2 linked regions of the Homo sapiens genome follow. The protein of the gene in region 1 interacts with the protein of each later gene in a pairwise test. Each region holds a gene or a part of one and is shown on either strand. Other genes may lie near its edges.

What was found.
Region 2: the proteins of MTMR1 (region 1) and CASS4 interact in a two-hybrid assay, tested with the Homo sapiens proteins (one large-scale study listed by IntAct).

What each region holds. Positions count from the first base shown.
Region 1 is NC_000023.11:150,734,789-150,738,608, forward strand, and holds part of MTMR1 (phosphatidylinositol-3-phosphate phosphatase MTMR1), read left to right. Parts: intron 1-675; coding exon of another isoform or gene 676-711; exon of another isoform or gene 712-913; intron 914-1,806; coding exon 1,807-1,992; intron 1,993-2,453; coding exon 2,454-2,660; intron 2,661-3,820. UniProt on the Homo sapiens protein: Lipid phosphatase that specifically dephosphorylates the D-3 position of phosphatidylinositol 3-phosphate, generating phosphatidylinositol. Could also dephosphorylate phosphatidylinositol 3,5-bisphosphate to produce phosphatidylinositol 5-phosphate.
Region 2 is NC_000020.11:56,418,709-56,422,528, forward strand, and holds part of CASS4 (cas scaffolding protein family member 4), read left to right. Parts: intron 1-3,820. UniProt on the Homo sapiens protein: Docking protein that plays a role in tyrosine kinase-based signaling related to cell adhesion and cell spreading. Regulates PTK2/FAK1 activity, focal adhesion integrity, and cell spreading.

The sequences.
Region 1 (3,820 bases):
CTGGCTGCCTTTCATATCTTCTTCTTGCATTGGTATTGCATTGGTTGATTTTTATATGTTGAACCACTGTCGTGGATTGAAAAATGTCTCCCAAAAGTTTGTCCAACTGGAACCTCAGAATGTGACCTTATTTAGAAATAGGATCTTTGCAGATGTATTAATTATGATGAAGCCATCTTGGAGTAGGGTTGGCCCTAAATCCAGTGCCTAGTGTCCGTATAAGAAAGCCATGTAGAGACACAGGCACACACAGAAGGAAGATGGCGATGTGGCAATAGAGGCAGAGATTTAAATGATGCAGCTAGAAGCTGAGGAGTGCCAAGGACTTCCAGCAACCACCAGAAGCTAAGAGAGAGACATGGAACAGATTCTTCCCTATACCCTCCTAAAGGAACCAACTCTGCCAGCACCCTGATCTCGGACTTTCAGCCTCCAGAACTGTGAGAGAATAAATTTTATGTTGTTTTAAGTCCCCCAGTTTGTGATAGCACCCTTAGGAAGCTAATAAAACCTCCTTACATTCCTGGGATAAATCCCACCCGTTCATGGTATGTGATCAGTCCCCTTCATATACTCTTGGATTGGGTTTGCTAGTATTTTGTTGAGGATATTTGCATGTATTTTCATAAGGGATGTTAATCTGTGGTTTTCTCTTCTTGTGATGTCTTTGTCTAGCTTTGGTATCAGGATACAGCTAGCCTCATGGAATGAACTAGGAAGTATGCCCTCCTCTTCTAGTTTTTGGATGACCCATCATCTCTTACCTCACCTACAGCAGGAACCTTGAAATTGGACTTCTGCCTCACACCCTGCAATCTCATCTCCACATTATGACCAGAGTGATCTTCTTTTTTAAAAAAAACTTATTGTTACTATTTCAATTGATAAATGAATTGTATATATTTATGGTGTACAACGTGGTATTTTGATTGTGTACACATTGTGGAATGGCTAAATCAAGCTAATTAACACACCATTTTTTGTGGTGAGAACACTTAAAATCTACTCTCAGCAGTTTTCAGATACAGACTACATTGTTATTGACTGTAGTCACCATGTTGTACAGAGTGATCTTCTCAGTGGACAACTCTGTGCACATCCCTCAGAGCCGCAAGGCAGTGATATCCAGGTTCCTGAACAGGGTCTCCAAAGCCCTCCACCCACGGGTCCTTTCCTTCCTGTCTCGCCACATCTTCCAGGTCCATGTCTCAGCTATGTGAGGTTCTTTTCAGTTCCTTAAGCACATCCCACTGTTAGCTCAGAGATATGTTGCAGTCCTAACTCCAAGTACCTATAAATGTGGCCTTATTTCACAATAGGGTCTTTGTAAATGTAATTAAGTTAGGATGTGGTCATATTGAATTGGGGGGTGGGGGTTAAGCCAAATGACTGTGTCCTTAGAAGAAGAGGAGAAGAGACAGACACAGACAAAGGAAAGAAGGTCAGGTGGAAATGGAGGCAGAGATCAGAATGATGTGTGTATAAGCCAAGAACACCTGGGACTATCGGAACCTGGGGCAGCCAAGGAAGGATCCTCCCCTAGAGTGTTCGGAGGAAGCATGGCACTGCCGATACCTTGAATTCAGACTTCCAGCCTCCAGAACTAGGAGAGAATAAACTTCTGTTGTTTTAAGCCACTGAGTTTGTGGTTCTTTTTCCAGCAGCCCTAGGAAACTCATACAAGGATATAGGAGGTTTATTTGCAGATGAGTTTGTTGCTTCTTTAGTGGTCTGTATCTCATAGCACTAGAAAGAATAGAAAAGTTAATTCCAGATAATGTGATGTATTTGTTTTGTTTTTCGTAGACAAAGGGTGGAGGATATGAAAGTGAAAGTGCTTACCCAAATGCAGAACTTGTGTTCTTGGAGATCCACAACATTCATGTCATGCGAGAGTCACTACGCAAATTAAAAGAGATTGTGTACCCTTCGATCGATGAGGCGCGGTGGCTCTCCAATGTGGATGGGACGCATTGGCTGGAATATATAAGGGTAAAGAGATCCAGCACTTTATATGCTTTCCAGTTAAGACTTCTTTGTGCCTGTGCCATAAATACGTATATCTCCAAGTGCCTCTTGGCTGTGTGCATGAACTTTCTTATTCAATAGTTTCCATGGACAGCATCAGACTGGGGTCTTTGTGGAGGGCTTTTGTGACATAGTGAAAAGGGAAAAATGCTTGCCTTAGGTCAGGCTTTTAAAGAACTTCGTGGCCCTTTAATAAGGAACCATATTTACTCCTGTAGTTTTTCTCCAGTATAAGATTTTTTCTTTTCTTTTTATTTTTTTAATGTGATGCTAATATTTCCTAGTGATTCTCAGCTGATTGCCTGCCATTCTTGCTTGGTTTATTGACCAGAACTTCCAAAGCTCTCCCCAGAATTATTTTACATTGTTTTACATTTAATTGAAATTCAATGTAGCCTGGTCTAATGTGCCTTTTTTTTCTGAAGATGCTGCTTGCTGGGGCAGTAAGAATTGCTGATAAAATAGAATCTGGGAAAACATCTGTGGTGGTGCATTGCAGCGACGGTTGGGACCGAACAGCCCAGCTCACATCTCTGGCTATGCTAATGTTGGACAGTTACTACAGGACCATTAAAGGATTTGAAACTCTCGTAGAAAAGGAGTGGATAAGCTTTGGACACAGGTTTGCACTGGTAAGTTCAGACAGTGAGGTTTATGCTGGACTGTTTTGCGGTATCATATGGATGTAAACGTCATGTGTGACACACGTAAGCGCATATATACACACACACGTGCAGGCTTTCTCTTCTGTATCATATCAGACCTGAATTGCCATAATAAAATACATGGACCTCAGGCATTGTATGTTCCTCATAGGGCGTTTTTATTTTAGTGTATTTATGCCTTTTTAAAAAATTGAGGTAAAATTCATATAACATAGAATTAACCATTTAAAATGCTCAATTCGGTGTCCTTTAGTAAATTCACAGTATTATGTAACCATCACCTCTAGTTTGAAAACATACTCTGGCCAGGCGCGGTGGCTCAGGCCTGTAATCCCAGCTCTTTGGGAGGCCCAGACAGGCAGATCACCTGAGGTCAGGAGTTCGAGACCAGCCTGGCCAACATGGTGAAACCCCGTCTCTACTAAAAATACAAAAATTAGCCAGATGTGTTAGCGGGCGCCTGTAGTCCCAGCTACTGAGTAGGCTGAGGCAGGATAATTGCTTGAACCTGGGAGGCAGAGGTTGCAGTGAGCCGAGGTCATGCCACTGCACTCCAGCCTGGGCAACAGAGCAAAACTCCGTCTCAAAAAACAAAACAAAACAAAAACCGTACTCTTCACCTCAAAAGGAAATGCTGTACACATTAAACAGTCATTCCTCACTTCCCCCAGCCCCTGACAACCACTAATATTTCTGTCTTCATATACATTTGCCTTTTCTAGGTACTTCATATAAGTGGAATCCTACAGTATTTGTCCTCCCATGACTGAGTTACTTCACTAAGCATAATATTTTCAAGGTTCATCCATGTTGTGACAAATATCAAATTTTCATGATTTTTTATAGCTGAATAGTATTCCCTTGTGTGTATATACCACATGTTGTTTATCTGCTCATCTGCTGATGGATGCTTGGATTGTTCCCACCTTTGCTATTGTGAAGAATACTGCGTGAATGTTAGTATATAAGTTTTTGCCATAACAAGGTACCACAGACTGCATGGTTGAAACAACAGAAATTAATTTTCTCATAATTCTGGAGGCTGGAAGTCCAAAATCAGGGTCCCAGCAGGATTGATTTCTCTTGAGGTCTCCCTTCTTTCCTTGCATATGGCCACCCTCTGGCTA
Region 2 (3,820 bases), on another chromosome or scaffold:
GAGTGGTTGTGAGCAGAAAAAATAGTAAATCAAGGAGTAGATAGCTTCTATTTATGTGTGTTACGTTTGATTCAGGAACACAATGTACCTTTCATTCCGTCAACAAATATTGAATGCCTGCTGCACACCAGGCACTGTTCTAAATGCTTCCAAGTCCAAGTGCCTGGTCCCCTTTCTCCATATGTAGTAAATAATTATTATGACTAATAAAAAATCCATCACATACTCATTATTGGTTCCCCTGTTTAATCACCTGTAGTCTTTGAACATTTTATTTCCTATAGAGCACACTTGGGGGGAAAAAAAGCTAAGGAGAATGCCACCATCACCCCAAAACTTAAAAGGTCTGAGAATAGACAGGCATTGGCCGACACGATAATGGAATGGGGAAGCAACTGTAGAATCAAAACAGGGCCGTTTTGGAATTGCGATGACTAAGGGAGGAAATGACAGGGGCCTGAAGGGGAAATAGCTTAAAAGGAGGAAGGTGGGAGGCTGGTAAGAGAGCTGCCACGGAGGGGGAGATTAGAACACTCCAACTTGAGTTGCAAAAAAAGGAAATACATTTTTTAGGAACCATTTCCAAACATAACGCCTATGAAGTGTTTGTTCAGGGGAAGAGCAGCCTTGTACACACACCTACGAAAAGCATAGTCGACACTGAGAAGACTGAGAAGAATATGCGTGGCCTCTTGTTCCTGGGAAAGCATCCCCAGCTCTCAGTGTGGGAGATCCTGCACTTCCCCCACACCACCCCCGCTCAGGCTGGAGTACAGTGGCACAATCTCAGCTCAGTGCAACCTCAGCCTCCTGGCTTAAGTGATCCTCCCACCTCAGCCTCCCAAGTAGCTGGGGCTTCAGGCATGCACCACTGTGCCCGGCTAATTTTTGTATTTTTAGTAGAGGTGGGTTTTTTTTCACCATGTTGCCCAGGCTGGTCTCGAACTCCTGTTTTTAAGTGATTGGCCCACCTCAGCTTCCCAAAGTGCTGGGATTACAGGCGTGAGCCACCGTGCCCGGCTAGGCTCTGCACTCTTAAAACTCCTCTAGGAGGCCAGGCACAGTGGCTCATGCCTGTAATCCCAGCACTTTGGGAGGCCAAGGCAGGTGGATCATCTGAGGTCGGGAGTTCAATACCAGCCTGACCAACATGGAGAAACCCCATCTCTACTAAAAACACAAAAATTAGCTGGGCTTGGTGGTGCACGCCTGTAATCCCAAATACTCAGGAGACTGAGGCAGGAGAATCGCTTGAACCCAGGAGGCGGAGGTTGTGGTGAGCCGAAATCACGCCATTGCACTCCAGCCTGGGCAACAAGAGCGAAAACTCCATCTCAAAAACAAACAAACAAAAGAAAGCTCCTCTAGGAGATGAGTGTGGACTGTGAAAAAGTTATTCACAGGCAATTTGAGGCCACCTACCTGGCCACTCAGAGAGTTTCTCCACGAGTTTATGTTAGTGAATGTATTGTTCTTTTCCTTTGAACAACTGCTTCACCTTATCATCAAGAGCAGCTTTTGTTTGCTCTACATGTTCTGGACAGCCCAGGCAGTCTGTCTTTTGTGGGGTTAGGGAGGGACAGGGGGCAAAAGAGCAGTAGGGTCATCCCTGTGTCTTGGAGGTGTTTGCCATCTGGTTAACAGTAAGTGAAAAGTGCTTTGTGGAATGTTCACTTTGGGTTCAGAAATTTTCTTTTAGAGACAGGGTCTCACTTTGTCACCCAGACTGGAGTGCAGTGGCGTTATCATAGTTCACTACAACCTCAAACTCCTGGGCTCAAGCAATCCTCCTGCCTCAGCCTCCCAAGTAGCTGAGACTACTGGTGCACGCCACCATGCCCATCTAATTTTTTTTTTTTTTTTTGTAGAGATGAGGGGCTCTCCCTATATTGCCCAGGCTTGTCTCGAACTCCTGACCTCAAGCAGTCCTCCTGCCTCAGCCTCCTAAAGCACTGAGATTACAGGAGTGAGCCACCACACCCGGCCCAGGTTCAAAAGTGAGAGTCTCCCCACGGTTGAAAGGGGAATAGAAGCACAAGAGTCAGTAATCAATAACAAACAACTCAAGGTGCTCCTTCCTTACACTGGTGTTCCCCAAAGTGAGGTGAATTGCCAGCCACTGGGAGTCAGGGCCAGTTACATAAGACATTCTCGGTAAGCCCCCTTTGGGTATCCCAAATAAGGACTGGGGTGGGTTTATGTGTAGTCCATTATTAACAACTAAACGAACAAACCTAGTGAATTGCAATAAATTCACACCAACAGAACAAAAGAAGAAAAGCTTAAACAAAAGAGTGGCTCCTTGCTTTCCTGAAGCACCTCTAAAAATGACCATAGAAAGATGGAAAAGTTTGGTGAACAAGCCTGAACCTTCACTCATTTCTCTGTCATGCATTAAACAGCTTGAGCCAGCTTTGAATTCTTCCGGGTCAATCAAATGGAAGTGCCCTGACTGCAGGCATGCCAGAGGATTTCAAGTGTGGTGCACAGAACAGTTTTTGTACAATACTGGTGTATCTTGATTTGCATTCAAACAAACTAAAACTAGCTCATCAAACCTGTAATTTCATGGGTAACATCGCTGAGGGACAGTTGTTTTTTAATTGACTCAATTTGTTATTTTACCTAAAAAATTGTAGTGGCACGTGGATATGACAGGAAGCAGGCAGTTGCTAGACACAAAACCCTTTAGAAACACAGGCTGGGGGCTGGGTGTGGTAGTCCACGCCTGTAATCCCAGCACTTTGGGAGGCTGCAGTGGGAGGATCGCTTGAGCCCAGCTGTTGGAGACCAGCCTGGGCAACATAGCGAGACTATCTCTACAAAAAATTTTTAAAAGTAGCTGGGTTTGGTGGCTCATGCCTGTAGTCCTAGCTACTTGAAAGGCTGAGGTGGGAGGATCGTTCGAGCCCAGGAGTTCGAGGCTGCAGTGAGCTGTGATCGCGTCACTGCAGTCCAGCCTGGGTGACAAAGTGAGACCCTGTCTCTAGAAAAGAAAAGAGAAAAAGAAACACAGGCTTAGACAAAGTTTTCTTCTAATTGGTGTCGGCATAATTGCTTACGACCCATCAAATAACACAAAACTCCTTCTTTCTTTATGCCTTTCCTCACTTTTTTCCTTAAAAAAAGAAAAAAGGAAAGAGGGAAGGAAAGGAAAGGAAGTTAGAGAGAAAAGCACCTGCATGTTATTTTCTCTGTAATCCCTCAGATGGCTTTCATGAACTAAGAGGTAAGAGTAAGAGAAGAATTCATGGGAAATGTAGATTTTGCAGCTGGATGGGAACTTTGGCGATTGCCCTGGGAAGCTATCTCACTTTCAGGTGAAGAAACTGAAACCCAGAGAAGTTCTGTTACTTGCCTCCTCCTTCGGTGGGTTTTTCATGAGCAAGGGTGAAATTGTCAGCCCCTTGACTTGATCCAACAGTTCCCCAAACCAAATATCTTAAGCAATAACTCAGGGACTTAGCTGGCAAGGAATAGACTTGGCGGTGGCAGGCAGTGGCAAGGCTGTGAATGAACACACTACGATCTCTGGAGCACTTTGAGTTGGAGAATGCAGTCTGGTATGACATGGGCCCATCTTGGGCCACATCCATGATAATCAATTATGTGAAGGCCTGAGAGACCTTTATTGTTGCATCATTTCAATCCTGAGCTTAGATCAAGGAAACCAGTCACCTGTTCCCCCGGTGTATATTGTCAGACATACAGTAGGTGCTTGATAAATAATTGCCAATTCAATGAAGCCTTAAGTGCAGCTTAGCAAGGTTTCCATGAGTAGAGGAAGTATATTAAAGCATGTCGATCTGGGTAACACCCA